Linked DNA regions of Homo sapiens: region 2 is linked to region 1. Evidence: fine-mapped expression QTL. Tissue or cell type: whole blood. Region 1 holds a variant in brackets; the other region holds the start of a gene. All regions are shown on one strand. Distances are between the middles of the regions.

Evidence for each region. PIP is the estimated chance that this variant, and not a neighbour inherited with it, causes the effect.
Region 2: it holds the start of NOL10, and the variant in region 1 is fine-mapped to the expression of NOL10 in whole blood (TOPMed, PIP 0.97).

The regions. Positions count from the first base shown.
Region 1 is chr2:10,553,088-10,561,189 of GRCh38, reverse strand. No RefSeq gene overlaps it. Among named protein-coding and RNA genes, the nearest start is that of ODC1-DT, 110 kb to the right of the region's middle. The variant A/G (reference allele first, on the strand shown) is at 3,029.
Region 2 is chr2:10,685,653-10,693,738 of GRCh38, reverse strand. NOL10 (nucleolar protein 10) reads left to right here and starts at 3,764. Exons shown (of 21, transcript NM_024894.4): 1 at 3,764-3,943. The coding sequence starts at 3,878. It also overlaps the pseudogene RN7SL832P. RefSeq lists enhancers at 3,918-4,197, 4,258-4,317.

The DNA.
Region 1 (8,102 bases):
CTCTGCCGACTCCTCATCCTCACCCACGCAGGTGTTAACATGCTCCAGGATGTCTTCTTTAAGCCTGTCACTCTTCCTTCCATAGTGTCACCTCTCTTCAGTGTCCCAGAGCTGCCTCCCAGATAGCCTCTGGGCCTTTCATCTGGGTGGCCGCTGGCACCTTGAGTTCCACATGCTCAAAGCAAAACTCATCCACCCCATCCCACCCACCCGAACACTTGCTGCTACTCCTCATTCGCCCGTCTATCAACCTGAGCCAGAAGTCACAGTTCCTGCAAGCACTACTTATCGAGCACTCTGCAGTTGACTCAGCAAAAAGAGCCGTTTACTTGAGTTTATGTTTCACGGGGGAGACAGACGATGCATCCAGTAGACACAATGCAGGCCACACGAGCCACTGGGCAGGCAGGAGAGCTGGGAGGGCAGGGCTGAGAATGCAAGAAATCGGCTGGCTCAGAAGAGGCCTCTCCGAGAAGGTGAGAAGTGAGCAAAGCCTGGAAGGAGGGGAGGCAGTTGGCCAGGGTATCCGGGAGGAACATTCTAGGCAGAGATCTCCAGGGTGCATCAGAAGCCCCTGGAGGGCATGTAAGGTGGAGTTTCTAATTCAGTGGGTCTGAGGTGGGGGCAGAAAACCTGCATTTCCAACATCACAGATGCTGCTGCTGCAGCTGGCCTGGGGCCCCACCTGAGAACCACTGGCTGGTGCAAAGGCCCGAGGCAGGGCTTTGCCCGGATGCTCAAGGAAGACGCCATTGGCCCCTGGGGCTGGCAGGGAGTAAAAGATTCCCCTGTAATCCGGCGGGTGTGGCTTGGTGTCAGCTGTACCAGAGTGAGTTGTGGGGCACTTGGGTCCTTGCATTGCTGTCCCAGCCCATGGAGCTCTCCGTGGGGATCTTTTCATCCCGGGAACCTCAGCCACAACTTCCTCCTTGCCCTTTGCTCGCCTCTGCAGCCTCCTGGCCCAGCAGCCTTCCCTGCACGCAAATGGCAGCAGCATCTGGGCTCCCCAGGCCAAGCTGTGGGAAACTCTAAGCCTTTCATGATGATGGGCTTTCAAAGTCCAGGACGGTCTGATGAGTGAAGACAACAGAAGGAAACAAGACCTGGGTCTGGTCCGGACTTGCTCATGGCGAAGATTTCAGTTAGTGGCCAAGTCACTTAACCCGTCCGTGCCTTGGTGTCTACATCTGTAAAATGGGTTTAATAGTATCTGTCCCCTAAGACTTCAGAGGATGTTAGTGGAGCCTAGTGAGTGAAGTCCATTAAATTCAGAAGAAAGGCGTAACTAAATACAAAGCACTACTAGAATTAGCTCTCAGGGTCTTTAAGCCAGGTTGCATCTTGTTTTAAGAGGGTTACCATGGCGATGAGTTTGTTTGAAAAGCATATGTTTAAAAGGCTTGGCTATTATCTTGCAACAATAAGTAAATTTCATTTTGCTGGTTCCCATTGTAACAGAGGCGCAGCGCCTCACCAGCAGCCATGACAGCCAACACTGCTGCGACTGCCACCTTCTGCCATGGCAAAGAGCACGGTTACTCCTGCTGTACATACAGTGAGTGCTTACTGTACGTTGTAGAGGCCACTGTGGTGGCATCTTGTCATGCGGATAGAGGACTGTCCTGTGGGCAGGACCCACCAGAATAATGCTCCTGCCATACCCACATCTATGGTTATGCTGGGTCTGCACTGGGCCAGAGATGTTGGCGGGATGGGCGGGGAGGGGTGAGGCTGAGCATCCTGCAGGAACGACTCTGTACCAGGCACCATCAGATTCTTTACACGTCACATCTCATCAAATGCCCCCGGCAGCCTGGCACTGTCCCGGGCAGCAGGATGGGGGTGTGGGTGCATAAGAGGTAGGACGGTCCCTCCCTCCATGAGAACAAAATTCAGCCTAGAAACGCAGACAGCGTGGCAATGCTGGGGCGGTGGTGGGGGTCCTAAAACTCAGGCACAGGGGCCAGCCCAGAATCTGGGGTCCTGGGGCTGGGCAGGGGCTTGGGTCAGTCCCTGGGTGCAATCCCAGCCCCACCGCGCAGCAGCTGCATGACAGTGGACAAGTCACTCACCCTCCTTGCCCTGGTTTCCACAAACAGGAGCACACACAGCGCTGTCAGTGGGACGTGGGGCACGCCATGTTCAGAGGCTCCATGTGAGTCTCTGGCAGGCAGCAGCAACTGAATGAATGGGGCAATGGGGACTGTGGCCCTGGATGAGGACACAAAGCTCCTCAGGTGCTGCTCTAGCTCCATGGTCCTGATTGGACAGGAAAGACCCTGTCACTCCGCCGTTGCTTCTTCTCAGGGCTGGACCCACCACAGGCACCTCACACACCTCCTGGAGTGCAGGAAGCAGGACCCCTTGTCTGTGTGGGGCCACATGAGCAGAATCTTGCTCAGGTCTGAGAGCCCCACCTCTGCTAAGAGGGGCTTTGAGGGGGTCACATATCCCCATGTTCCTGCTCACGATTGGGCTGTGGTGTCCCTGCTGTGCCACAGGCCCAGTCGCAGCCAAGGCAGGACCAGGGGCTGGAGGGTCTCGGAAGCTGCCGCTCAGCCCCTGCCTCAGTTTCCTCACACTGTGAAGGTGGAGTCAGGTGAGCCTCCCGTTGCCTGGTTTTCCTGGGGAGGGTGGGGTCTTCCTGTCCAGCTTGGACGTGGAGTGGAGCACCCCTCTTTCCCACAGTCCCGCCAAACTGGACTCATTTTCCTTCAAAGCCTAAGTCTTGTGAAGACACTTGTGCCCTGGAGGGCCTGGCGGCCACGAGGTGGACACTCCATGGCAAGGCCTCGTCATCAAGGCACCTGCCGCCCAGCACAGCGCTGTGCACAGCAGGTGCTTACTAAATACAGGCTTAATGAATAAGTGAATGAATGGAGAAGGGCATGAGAGAGGGGAAGAAACTCATCTGTATTAGCTCAAAACAGCCCGAATTCTGGCCTCCAGTCGGCATGGGACCAAGGAGAGCTGCGCATGTGGTGATCTGAGCCTCAGCCAGGGTGGGCCCAAGGGTAGGGGTGAGGCG[A/G]GGTGCACCCATTTTCCTGGGAGCTGAGCTGGAGGCTGATCCCGGCTCAGGGCCTCCTGCTTCCTTCCCTGTGTGGGGAAACGAGAGGCATTTCCTGGAAATGCAGCCTGGGTGCAGCGGAGGACAGAGCCAGGTAGGGTGGGAGGAGGCTGTGGGCCAGGGCTCTGGGACAGGTGAGAAGACACTGGCGCTCTGCCCAGAGACCCTGTCCCCCAGCAGAGTGGCTACGAGTTTCCTTCCCATCAGAAGTCAGGCCCTGCAGGTCCATGGACCAAGACAAGCCACCTCCAACCAGAAAGAACTCTGGAGAGACGTGCCTGTGTCCACGCCCATGGTTGCTCAGGGACCAGTCAGGCAACCTCCTGCCTCACTTTCCCCCTACAAAACAGGGAGATCAGCATGGCCCGTTGTGTGCCCCCAGGAGAGGCACCTGTTATACAGAGCAGGGCGGCAAACAATGGCCCATGGGCCGAACCCAGTCGCCGCCTGGTGGTGCTTCCTTTTCAGCCACCCACCTTGTAGTGCCTGGCAAGGGCAGCCTAAGGGAACCCACACCCTCTCTGACACCTCTGTTGTGTGGATCTCACAGCTCTCCCTGCTGTCATAGCTTATCATTTATTTATTTTTATTATTTTTTTGCGACTGAGTCTCACTCTGTCGCCCACGCTGGAGTGTGGTGGCATAATCTCGGCTCACTGCAGCCTCCGCCTCCCGGGTTCAAGCGATCCTCCTGCCTCAGCCTACTGAGTAGCTGGGACTACAGGCGTGTGCCAGTACACCTGGCTAATTTTTGTATTTTTTGTAGAGGCAGGGTTTCACCATGTTGGCCAGGCTGGTCCCGCACTCCTGACCTCAGGTAATCTGCACGCCTCAGCTTCCCAAAGTGCTGAGATTACAGATGTGAGCCATCGCGCCCAGACAGAAGTTATCATTTATTTATTTTTGCTCATCTTCCTCTACTAGAATGGAAACTCCACTGAGAGCAAGGATCCCATTTATTCTTTATTTCCGTATCCCCGGTGTCTTTGAAAGTGCCTGGTACGTACTGGCACAACGTTTCTGAAATGAATGAGTAGATATGGCTCTACTGGTGTCCTGTGACCCGCGTAACCAAGTGCCAAGAGCTGGGTGGCTCGCAACAACAGAACCCGCTCTCACCGTCCTGGAGGCCAGGTGTCTGACATCGAGGTGTCAGCAGGGCCCTGCTCCCTCCAAAGGCTCCTGGGGAGGCTCCTTCCCGGCCTCCTCCAGCGTCTGGGGGTTGCTGGCAATCTTTGGCACTCCTTGGCACTCCTTGGCTTGTGGACGCTTCACTCCAATCTCCGTCTCCGTTTCTGCCCAGAACTCCCTTGTGAGTCCGTGTCTTTGCTTTCTCAGGAGAATTGCTCATTCCAGCCGCAGTTCTTCCAGGGGGCGGTCTGTGCGCGTGAACTGCCTGAGCGGGGAACCCAGCCAGATCATGAACTGCCCAGGCCCCAGCTCCCGGCTTGATTTGCTGCAGTTTTCCTAATTGGAAGAGAAACGTATGCTGATTATTTTTAAAGACATAAATGTTACAGAAATGTAACAAAAGCAAGTGAAATTCCCCCCAGCCCCATCTCTCCCTGCTCAATGGCGTGATCGCACACATTTGGGGCTGGTGCCTCAACTCAGGCCTCTCATCACCCATGGAGGCCTGGGATGGGCAGAGCGTGACGTCAGGCACCATGGGGGGACTCGCGGGGGCGAGCTTTACCTTTGCTCTTAAGGAGCTCCCAGTCTAAAGAGGGAGACAAAAAAAAAAAAAAAGCCCAAGGAACTGTCCTAGCCAGAGGGGCCTAAAGAGGCCATGACTAAATGGCCTGTGGCTTTCTGCAGGGGATCCTGGAACAGAAAAGGACTTAAGGTGAAAACTGAGGAGATCTGAGCCAACAGTGGACCTGAAGAATGACTGTCAGTCCATTCATCGGAACAAATGGGCCGGACTCATGCCCCATGTTAATAATGGAGGAACCTGGATGTGGGGTTTATGGGAACTCCCTGTACTATCTTCTCAATTTTTCTGTAAATCCAAAACTGTTGGAAAAATTAAAATCCATTAAAAAAAAAAAGACACAATATAAGGCACCAAGGCAAATGGTCTGCTGAGACAGAAGAAACCAAGCCTCGGAGCTCCCCACCGGCTTACGCTGAGGGACCCCCGGAGGGAGGCCAGCTGGCCCTTGCAGCCACACAGGGTGAAGGAAATGAGTTGGGTGTTTCGGGAGAGAGCAACCAGATGTCCCATCTGGCTGTGGCCCGCATCCCTCCCCGCCAGGGCCCCGCTCGGTAAGCGGTATCTGCAGCCTTGGGAATGCCCCAAGGGGAAGGGGACAAGAGGAAAGGGAGTGAGACCATGGGATGGACCCGCGGGCCTTCCTGCTCTAGTTCCCAGCCTCTGCCTGCCCCACGGGAGGCTCCCTAAGTTCCCCGAGAGTGCAGGAATGCACAATGAGCAAATGCTGGTTGCTAGGCCTGCGTGCGCACAGGCAGACTCTCCGTTGTGTCTTTCGGTGCCTGCAAGAGCCTTGCGGGTCTGCAGCTCATAAACCCTCTTCACTCACCATCTATTTTGCTATTTTTTAATTGCCTGAGGTCAAATCCAGAAAGCAGCTTCTGAGATTCCTGCGGCTTCCTGCCCGCCTGGTGTCCTACGCTACCATTTTCCTGTGCAAACACTTGAGGGGCGTTGGGAGCCGAGGGAATTGGAGCAGCAGGTCCTGTTCCTTCCCCTGGCTGTGTGTTTAGGAAGGTCTTTGGAAACACAACTGTTTGGAAAAGTCTTGAAATAGGAAATAGAGTCCCAGCTGAGTGTCTAGGTTACATGAGAGTCAAAAAATATAAAACCATTTCCTCCAAGGTTGCCAAGTTTGGAGGGCCCACCCCGCTCTGCACATCCTGCAAATGACTCAACTTGAATTTACCTCCGTGACTCTTGCGCGACTTCCACGCGTGAAGCCAGCACCCAAAGGAGCACTGGGTGCCCCTGGCGTCCTGGACACCAGCCTCCCCTCCATCACAACACTGGGACCCTATCCCAGGCTGGGCCTGGCCCACTGCTCAACAAGCATCACACTGTCACCTGGGGCATCTGCAGAACTTTTCATCAGACAAGGAGAAATGGCCTGTCCCTTGCATGGGGAGAATTCCTCTGCTATTTTAACCATTTTCTTTTCTTTTTTTTTTTTTTAAGACGGAGTTTCGCTTTTGTTGCCCAGGCTGGAGTGCAATGGCGTGATCTCAGCTCACCATAACCTCCGCCTCCCAGGTTCAAGCAATTCTCCTGCCTCAGCCTCCTGAGTAGCTGCGATTACAGGCATGCACCACCACGCCAGGCTAATTTTGTATTTTTAATAGAGATGGGGTTTCTTCATGTTGGTCAGGCTGGTCTTGAACTCCCGACCTCAGGTGATTCACCCGCCTCGGCCTCCCAAAGTGCTGGGATTACAGGCGTGAGCCACCGCACCCGGCCTTATTTTAACCATTTTCAAACATGCAGCTCAGTGGCAGGAATCCATTCATTGTTGTGCAGCCATCACCAACATCCACCCCCAGAACTTGTTCATTATCCCCTGCTGAAACTTTGCACCCACAAAACACTCTCTATTTCCTCCTCCTCCCAGCCCCTGGTAACCGCCACTGGACTTTTCTCTCTATGAATTTGCCTCTTCCGGGTGCCTCATATCAGTGGAGTCATGTCCCTTTGTGTCTGGTTTTTTCACTTAGCGTAGTGTTGTCGAGGAGTCATGTCCCTTTGTGTCTGGTTTTTTCACTTAATGTAGTGTTGTCGAGGAGTCTGTCCCTTTGTGTCTGGTTTTTTCACTTAGCGTAGTGTTGTCGAGGAGTCTGTCCCTTTGTGTCTGGTTTTTTCACTTAACGTGGTGTTGTCGAGGAGTCTGTCCCTTTGTGTCTGGTTTTTTCACTTAACGTGGTGTTGTCGAGGAGTCTGTCCCTTTGTGTCTGGTTTTTTCACTTAACGTGGTGTTTTCGAGGAGTTTGTCCCTTTGTGTCTGGTTTTTTCACTTAACGTGGTGTTGTCGAGGAGTCTGTCCCTTTGTGTCTGGTTTTTTCACTTAACGTGGTGTTTTCGAGGAGTTTGTCCCTTTGTGTCTGGTTTTTTCACTTAACGTAGTGTTCTTGAGGTTCACCGGTGTGGTAACAGGTATTCGAGTTTCATGCCTGCCCATGGCTGACTAGCATCTACTGTGTGACTGGGCCTCACTGCACTGATGCGTCCCTCTGCGGAGGGACAAGTGGGTCGCTTCCACCTTCTGGTGACTGTGAATAACACTGCTGTGAACATGGGTGTGCACTCTCTGTTGGAGTCTCTGCTTTCAGTTCTTTTGGATATATACCCGGGCGTGAAACTGCTGGGTCATAGGGTAATTCTGTGTTTAACTTTTTTTCTTTCTTTCGAGACAGAGTTTCTCTCTTGTTGCCCAAGCTGGAGTGCAGTGGCGTGATCTCGGCTCACTGCGACCTCCGCCTCCCGGGTTCAAGCAATTCTCCTGCCTCTGCCTCCCGAGTAGCTGGGATTACAGGCATTCGCCACACCTGGCTAATTTTTTGTATGTTTAGTAGAGATGGTATTTTGCCATGTTGGCCAGGCTGGTCTCGAACTCCTGACCTCAGGTGACCCACCCACCTCAGCCTCCCAAAGTGCTGGGATTACAGGCATGAGCCACGGCACCCAGCCTGGGCTTTTTCCTGTTGCTGTCATTGAGGAATTGTAGTTCTTTACATGTTCTGGAGAGGGACATCACATTCTATGTTTGATTTTTATCCATCTGTGCACACATATCCAGAAGCAGAAATTCAAGTGTAGGGGGGCTGTGGGGGGACTGAGAAAGGCTTATATAAAAGGCTTGGCAACAAAATCAAATCAGCCTTTGCAGAGGTCCCTGTTCCTTCCATTCCCAAGGGAACATTCCAGAAACCCCCACTGTGGGCTGGGCTTCTCAGTCTTTTCTCCATGTCCTGTTGCAAGCCCGAGAGCCCTGAGCCCATGGGCCTGTGTGGTGGTGGTCCACAGCCTCCAGGCCAGGGGAGGAAGGGT
Region 2 (8,086 bases), 130 kb before region 1:
ACTCATCCTTTCAGAGATGCTAAAAAAAAATGAATGTCCTGAAATCAGTGATTTATGGCGTAAACTCACTTTTCTGTTTTTTTGTTTTTTGAGACAGAGTCTCGCTCTTTTGCCAGGCTGGAGTACAGTGGCGCAAACTTGGCTCACTGCAACCTCCACCTCCTGGCTCACTGCAACCTCCACCTCCTGGGTTCAAGCGATTCTCCTGCCTCAGCCACCTCAGTAACTGGGACTACAGGTGTGTGCCACCATGCCCAGCTAATTTTTGTATTTTTAGTAGAGATGGGGTTTCACCATGTTGGCCAGGATGGTCTCGATCTCTTGACCTCATGATCTGTCCTCCTCGGCTTCCCAATGTGCTGGAATTATAGGCATGAGCCACCATGCCCAGCCTTTTTTTTTTTTTTGAGACGGAGTTTCACTCTTGTTGCCCAGGCTGGAGTGCAATGGCACAATCTTGGCTCACTGCAACCTCCGCCTCCCGGGTTTAAGCGATTCCTGTGCCTCAGCCTCCAGATTAGCTGGAACTACAGGTGCCAACCACCACACCTGGCTAATTTTTGTATTTTTAGTACAAACAGGGTTTTGCTGTGTTGGCCAGGCTGGTCTAGAACTCCTGGCCTCAAGTGATCTGCCCGCCTCAGCCTCCCAAAGTGCTGGGATTAGAGGTATGAGCTACTGCGCCTGGTCATGATTAGTTTTTTTTTGTTTGTTTGTTTTTGTTTTTGAGACGGAGTCTCGGTCTATTGCCCAGGCTGGAGTGCAGTGGCGCCATCTCTGCTCACCACAACCTCTGCCTCCCGGGTTCAAGCAATTCTCCTGCCTCAGCCTCCTGAGTAGCTGGGACTACAGGTGCGTGCCACCATGCCCGGCTAATTTTTGCATTTTTAGTAGAGACAGGGGTTTCACTATGTTCACCAGGCTGGTCTTGAACTCCCGACCTCGTGATCTGCCTGCCTTGGCCTCCCAAAGTGCTGGGATTACAGGCGTGAGCCACCGTGCTCAGCCCATGATTAGGTCTTAAGGGCAGAGCTCTCATGAATGGGATTGGTGCCCTTACAAAATACAGGTTGAGTATCCCTAATCTGAAAATCCAAAATCTAAAATGCTCCAAAATCTGAAACTTTCTGAATGTCAATGTGATGCTCAAAAGGAAATGCTCACTGGAGCATTTCGGACTTGAAATGTTTGGATTAGGGATGCTTAACTGGTAGACCCATCTCTATAAAAACAAAACAGCCAGCTCTGGTGGTGTGCCTGTACTCCCAGCTACTCAGGAGGATAAGGTGGAAGGACAGCTTGAGCTCGAGTTTGAGGCTGCAGTGGGTCATGATCATGCCACTGTATTCCAACCTGGACAACAAAGTGAGATGCCCCCATGGAAAAAACCCACAACGCCAACAGAAAGTAGATTAGTGGTTGTCTAGGGCTTGGGTGGGGGATGGGGCATGGAGTGAATGCTAATTGAGGCTGGGGTTTCTTTTTGTTCTAAAAATGATTGTGGTGATGGTTGCAGAACTCTGAATACACTAGAAGTCATTACATTGTACATTCAATGGGGACATTTTACAGTATGTTAATTATATCTCAATAAAACTGTTAAAAAGGAAATGTTAATGGAATTTGGATACATTTCCACTTATTTGGTATATGGCTTTATTTTCAGTTTTATTTTACAAACACTTACATGGTCTTACTATGTGCCAAGTACTGGGTTCCAAACGTTTTATAAATATGAATGTATTTCATCCTCATAACTCTGTGAAGTGGATACTACTGTTATCTCCATTTTACACAGGTACAGAGAGGTTAGGTAACTTACCTAAGGTCTTTCAGTTAAAAATGGCAGTCGGGATTTGAATCTTGCCAGTCTGGCTTCAGAGTCTGTGATCTTTATTTATTTTTCAAGAGATAGGGTCTTGCTGTGTTGCCCAAGCTGGAGTACAGTGTTAGTCACAGGCATGATCCCATTACTGGTGAGCATGGGAGTTTTGACTTGCTCCATTTCTGACCTGAGCCGCTTCACACCTCCTTAGGTAACATGGTGGTCCCTGGCTCTTGTGGGGTCACCATATTGATGCCAAACTGAGGACACCCAACGCTCGTTGCGTGCTACAGCCAAGAACTCCTGGGCTCAAGTGATTCTCCTGCTTCGGCTTCACTAGTAGCTAGGACAATAGGCCTGCACCACCAAGCCAAGCCAGAGTCTGTGATCTAACCATTCTATTATGCCACCTTTCCCAAAGATGTTTACAGTTTTTCTTAACTGTAACCAGTGTAGAAAATTAAAAATTTGTGGAGGATCTTAAATTTGAGGACAGAGTTAAGGAATATATCCCTACGTACATGGCTAAATGTAAATATGTAGCAATGCCTAATAGAGGCCAGGCACTGTTCTGGTACTCTGGGTAGGGGTGGATGGGGTGGATAGGGAATATAAGGACAAATGATATAGGGTCCACGAAGAACTCTCAACCTAATTCTGATGCAATGTGGTGTTGGTATTTGAGAGTTTCCAAAATGTTGTGGGTAGGAGAGCAAAACAATAATATTTGGGTTTTAGAAAGTAAGGCATAAAATAATTTGTTCATTAAATCAAAGGAAGTAAGAAGATCACTTGGGAAAGTTATAATCCAAAAATAGTTAAGTATTTGAGTTTCAGCAGGAGGAATGAAAACAGATTACTTTAAGGAAATATTTCATAATTAGAAATATCCAGGTTTAGATACTGAAAGTGAGGGCCAGAGATAGGAATGGGTTGAAGATGACGCCACAGTCTTCTTTTTTTTTTTTTTTTTTTTTTGAGACGGAGTCTCACTCTGTTGCCCAGGCTGGACTGCAGTGGCACGATCTCAGCTGACGGCAACCTCTGCCTCCCGGGTTCAGGCGATTCCCCCACCTCAGCCTTCAGAGTAGCTGAGATTACAGGCGCGCGCCACCAGGCCCGACTGATTTTTGTATTTTTAGTAGAGACGGGGTTTCACCATCTTGGCTAGGCTGGTCTTGAACTCCTGACCTCAGGTGATCCGCCCGCCTCGGCCTCCCAAAGTGTTAGGATTACAGGCGTGAGCCACCGCACCCGGCCTACAGTACTTCTAACGTAACATCGCAGAAACACTGGAGGAGAGAAGAGAATACACTTCCACTCGGAATTCGCACCCTGGTCGCCTTCATTCGCTGGGTTCACTCGCTGAACTGCCTCGCCCCCGCCCGGGAGGATGACATCTCGGCCTGGGCAGAGACTCGAAAGCCTCCTCCTGCCGCTCGGGATGCTAACAGCAGGGAGAGCTGTGTCTAGTTTTTTTTTTTTTTTTTTTTTTTTTGAGAGGGAATCTCGCTCTGTCCCCCAGGCTGGAGTGCAGCGGCGCGATCTCAGCTCACTGCAACCTCCGCCTCCCAGGTTCAAGCAATTCTCCTGCCTCAACCTCCCGTGTAGCTGGGACTACAGATGCCGGCCACCACGCAAGGCTAATTTTTTTGTATTTTTAGTAGAGACGGGGTTTCACCATATTGGTCAGGCTGGTCTCGAACTCCCGACCTCAGGTGATCCGCCCGCCTCAGCCTCCCAAAGTGCTGGGATTACAGGCGTGAGCCACCGCGCCCGGCTTGTGTCTAGTCTTGCCCGTAGCAGCGTCGCCGACAGCCACGCCGGGTTGTCAGAGCCTCACTAGTTTTTCTCCCGGCCGCCGCTCTTCCCGGATTCAGCCACCTTCCCTCTTCCGGGAACTTGCCCGCGTGTTCCGGCTCCAGGAAGTGCGTCATCAGTCGGCGCCAGCGGCCGCACGCCGCGGAGCAGGGGCTCGGAGGTCCCGGGATTACGGTGCTCGAGCACGCTGGTGGGAAAGGACCCGGGACTTGAACAGTGTTGTGCGGCGCCATGCAGGTCTCCAGCCTCAATGAGGTGAAGATTTACAGCCTCAGCTGCGGCAAGTCCCTTCCTGAGGTGAGTCACTTCCCGGCCCCCTCACTCTCGAGCTCTTGGGGGTCGTCCTCCTCGTGGGGCAGCCGCCCCTCTCCTCGGCCCTAGCCTCTGTTTTAGCTGGACGCTGGTCACCCCCCGACTCGGGGAGGCCCAGAGGCGGCTGACAATTTCCGGGGGAGGTGTCGGCATTGGGAGACAAGGACACTGCCGTCACCGCGCCAGAAACTGGACCAAGGGATAATCAGGGTCAGTGAGCTTTGCTGGAACTTTTGTAAAGTTCTCTGTTCCAGAGAACGCAACCATTTGGGCCTCTTTGGGTGTTCACAGTCCCTGCCGTACATCGAGGAGGAAAACGTGGCAGATTCGTTGACACATCTCTCCCCCATATGGCCATCAGCTGTTTGTGGAGTCCCTATCATTTGCCAGGTCTTAGGGATACAACAGTGAACAAGGGAGATACAGACTTCGCATCTGCAGAATTTATGGTGTAGAGGACAGTATTTTCGAGACTTGTTGAACTTAACCTGATTCCTAGTCTTAAAGTTGGAGAGGGCTTGGACAAGTCGGTAATTCTCTTCCAATCTTCTCGTGTTTAGTAATGCAGCTGAGATTTAATAATGCGTTTAATATGCAGCTGAGATCCAGCAAGGGGAAGGGTGACTTGTCCAGCATGACACACTTAGGCTCTGAAACTTGTCTTTTGTTTCTTATACGTGATGATCCAGCCTCTGTCCAAGCACTACCACTGAGCACTACCTTTTGTGGAAGCTCATTTCCATTTTGAGACTCTGCACTTGTTAGAAAGTGGTTTTCAAATATGTCACCTTATAGCATGCCACTGTTGGCCTGAGTCCTGCCCTTGGAAAACAGAATAAATATAGCTCTCCTTCCATGCGTCTGCTTCTACAAAAATTTGGAGCCAGTGCTTAGGTTTTTCCTTTCTTCCTAAAATTCTGGTTTGAATAATTCCCTGTCTTCCAGTTGTTCTTCACACCCCATGAGCTTTCTCATTTTGTTCATTCATTCTCCACATGTATTGAGAAGTTACTGTGTGCAAGCAACTCTGTTTTAAGTATTGGGATCTATAGTGGACATTTCAGATAAGGTTCCCTGTTGGGGAAAAGGGAAATAAACAAGTGAGCAAATAAGGCAATTTAAGGTAGTCAAAAAGTACTTTTCGTGGTGAATGATTAGAAGAGAGCTGTTTTGGATAAAATATTGAGAGAAAGTGTTTTGGATAAAACCTTCGGGGAAGGCCTCTCTACAAGAGGTGACATATGAGCAGAAACTTGGATGATGAAGAGGAGCCAGTCGTGTGAAGATGTGGGGAAGAGTTTTCAGTGCTGAGAACAGAAAGTGCAAAAGCCCCACATGGGAATGCACTGGACATGTAGGAGGACGGAAGAGGCACAGGTGTGATTGCACTATGCTGAGTGAGGGGGCGAGAGCAGGGTGGATGAGGCTGGAGAGGTAGGCCTGGTAGGAAAGGTAGGAAGTTCAAGTTTTATTCTTAGTGCTGCTGGAAGTCACTGTTGTGTGGGCTGCTGTGCGACAAATGTCTAGCTGGGGAGGGTTCAAGTCGGGATGAATTAGGTAGTCCAGGTGAGCGACTTCGGTGGCTTGGGCTTGCCTGGTAACAAAGAAGATGCTAAAACACAGTGAGATTCAGGACATACTTTGTAGATAGGGTAATGGAACTTGCTAATGGATTGGACTGTTGGTAGAGGGAAGTTGAGGTGACAAAAAGGAAGGAATCAGAGAACTCTTCAGTTTTGAGTCTGAACAAGTGGGTGCACGGTGGTGCTGCTAACTGACATGGAGAAGAATCAAGAAGGAACACATTGAAAGGTGGAGAGGAGGAACGTAGTGAGCAAAAAGAATCAAGATTTTTTTTTGAGGTCGCGTGCAATGGCCTGATGTTGGCTCACTGCAACCTCTCGGGTTCAAGCGATTCTCCTGCCTCAGCCTCCCCAGTAGCTGGGACTACAGGCACGTGCCACCACACCAGCTAATTTTTGTATTTTTAGTAGAGACGGAGTTTCACTATGTTGGCCGGTATGGTCTCGATCTGATCTTGTGATCCACCCACCTCGGCCTCCCAAAGTGCTGGGATTACAGGCATGAGCCACTGCACCCGGCCCAAGGTTTTTATTTTCAATAGTGAACATTTGAAGTTCTAATACATACCAAATGGAGATGTTGAGTAGTTAGCAGTTGCATGGATACTAGGATGGAGATTGCAGGTGAATTTACTGTCGTTATTTGGGACTAGGTGAGATCAAATTGTGAGAGAAAGAACAGAGAAGATAACTAGGCTGAGGACCTGAGGCAGTCTTAGCATTTGTCATCCAAGAAGAGGAGGGGAACCCAGCAAAGAAGAAAGAGTAGTGGGCACTGATGGAAGGGGAGACTGGGAAATGTGTAGTTTTGTAGAAGTAAGTGTTTCAAGGAGGAGGTGGTGGTCACCTGTGTCAGCTGCTACTGAGAGCTTCAGTAAGATGAAGGCAGAAAAATGACCATCGACTTTGGCATGATGCAGAGCGCCCTTGACCTTGGCAAGGAGCTCCAGTGGAGTGGTGGGGAGGGTAGCTTGAGCTGAGTGGATTTGGAAACCCCTGCTTGTCCTGTTTAATATTTTCTGGTTATTTCTTTGAGGTGTGGTGCCTAAACTACACGTGGAACCCCAGTTGTTGTCTGATCTGTGCAAATATTGCTTCTCTCCTTCTGGGCTTTACCTTTTTATTAATGTAGAGAAGCCTCTACGTTTACTCCCCTGGTGATCCTAGGCAGTCTCCTGGCTTTAAGCACATCTGCATATCGATAACTATCACATTGATGTTTCTAGCCCTTACCTCTACTCTGAACTGGACTTGTGTATCCAACTGTTTCTTGACATCCCCGCTTGGATGTCTGATAGGCATCTCAAACTTAACTTGTCCAAAGTAGAACACCAGCTTTCCCCCCACATTTCCCCCTCCTGCAACCTAGTGGTCTTCCCTCCCTCAGCCAGTGGCAACTCCATCCCGCAAGCTGTTGATGCCAAAAACACTGGAGGCTTTTTGTTGTTGTTTCTTTGCTCTCATACAATCCACTAGAAAATGCTGTTGCTTCTATCTTCAGTATAGATCCAGAATCCAGTCACCTCCATTACTGTCACTGATTCAAGACACTGTCACCCCTGACTATGCAATTGCAGTTATTGCAGTTGACTTCTAAGCAGTTTCTCAGTTTCCACCCTCTACCCCTTTATTCCACAGTCTGTTATCAGTAAGCTGCCAGGGTGATCCTCTACTCAGAACTGTCCAGTGGCTCCTGCTCTCTTGGGGGTGAAAAGCAGAGTCCTTTGAGTGACTTTTAAGGTCCTACTTGATGTTGTGCCTTCCTGCCCTCCTCTCTGAGCTCAGCGGTCACTGTTCTCCACCTTACACTGGCCTCACAAGTCTCACTGCTCGAGACCAGGCACACTCCTGCCGTAGGACCTTGGCACAGGTCCTGCCTGCCTGCTTTTTTCCCAGATGTTCTCCAGGCTTTGCCTCCTCATGCCTTTCAGGTCGTTGCTCAAGAGGACCTTAACCTTATTCAAAATTATAATTCTCCACCAACACTTCGTCTCCTTTTCTTGCTTTATTTTTTCCATGGCATACATAACCATCTGACATTCTAATTGTTTTACTTCCTTATTTGTTGGTGTTCCCTCACTTGAAAGAAAGCTTCATGAAAGGAGGGGTTTTTAGATTTTTAAATTTTTTTTTTTTTTGAAACAGGTTTACTCTGTTGCCCAGGCTGGAGTGCAGTGGCACAATCATGGCTCACCTCAGCCTTGACTTCTCTGGGCTCAATGATTCTTGCACCTCAGCCTACTGAGTAGCTGGGACTACAGGTGTGTACCAACATGCCCAGCTGCTTTTTTTTTTTTGTAGAGACAGTGATCCCACTTTATTGCCAGGCTGGTCTCGAACTCCTGGGCTCAAGTGATCCCCTTGCCTCAGTGCTGGGATTATAGATATGAACCACTGCACTTGGCCAAGAGGGCTTTTTTTTCCCTCCTGTTTTATTTACTACTGCTATACCTAATTACTGGCATTTAGTAGTACTAAATAAATATTTGTTTAATGTATTGATGAATAAAGTTAATTTTCATTTTCAGCTCCATCACACTTTTGA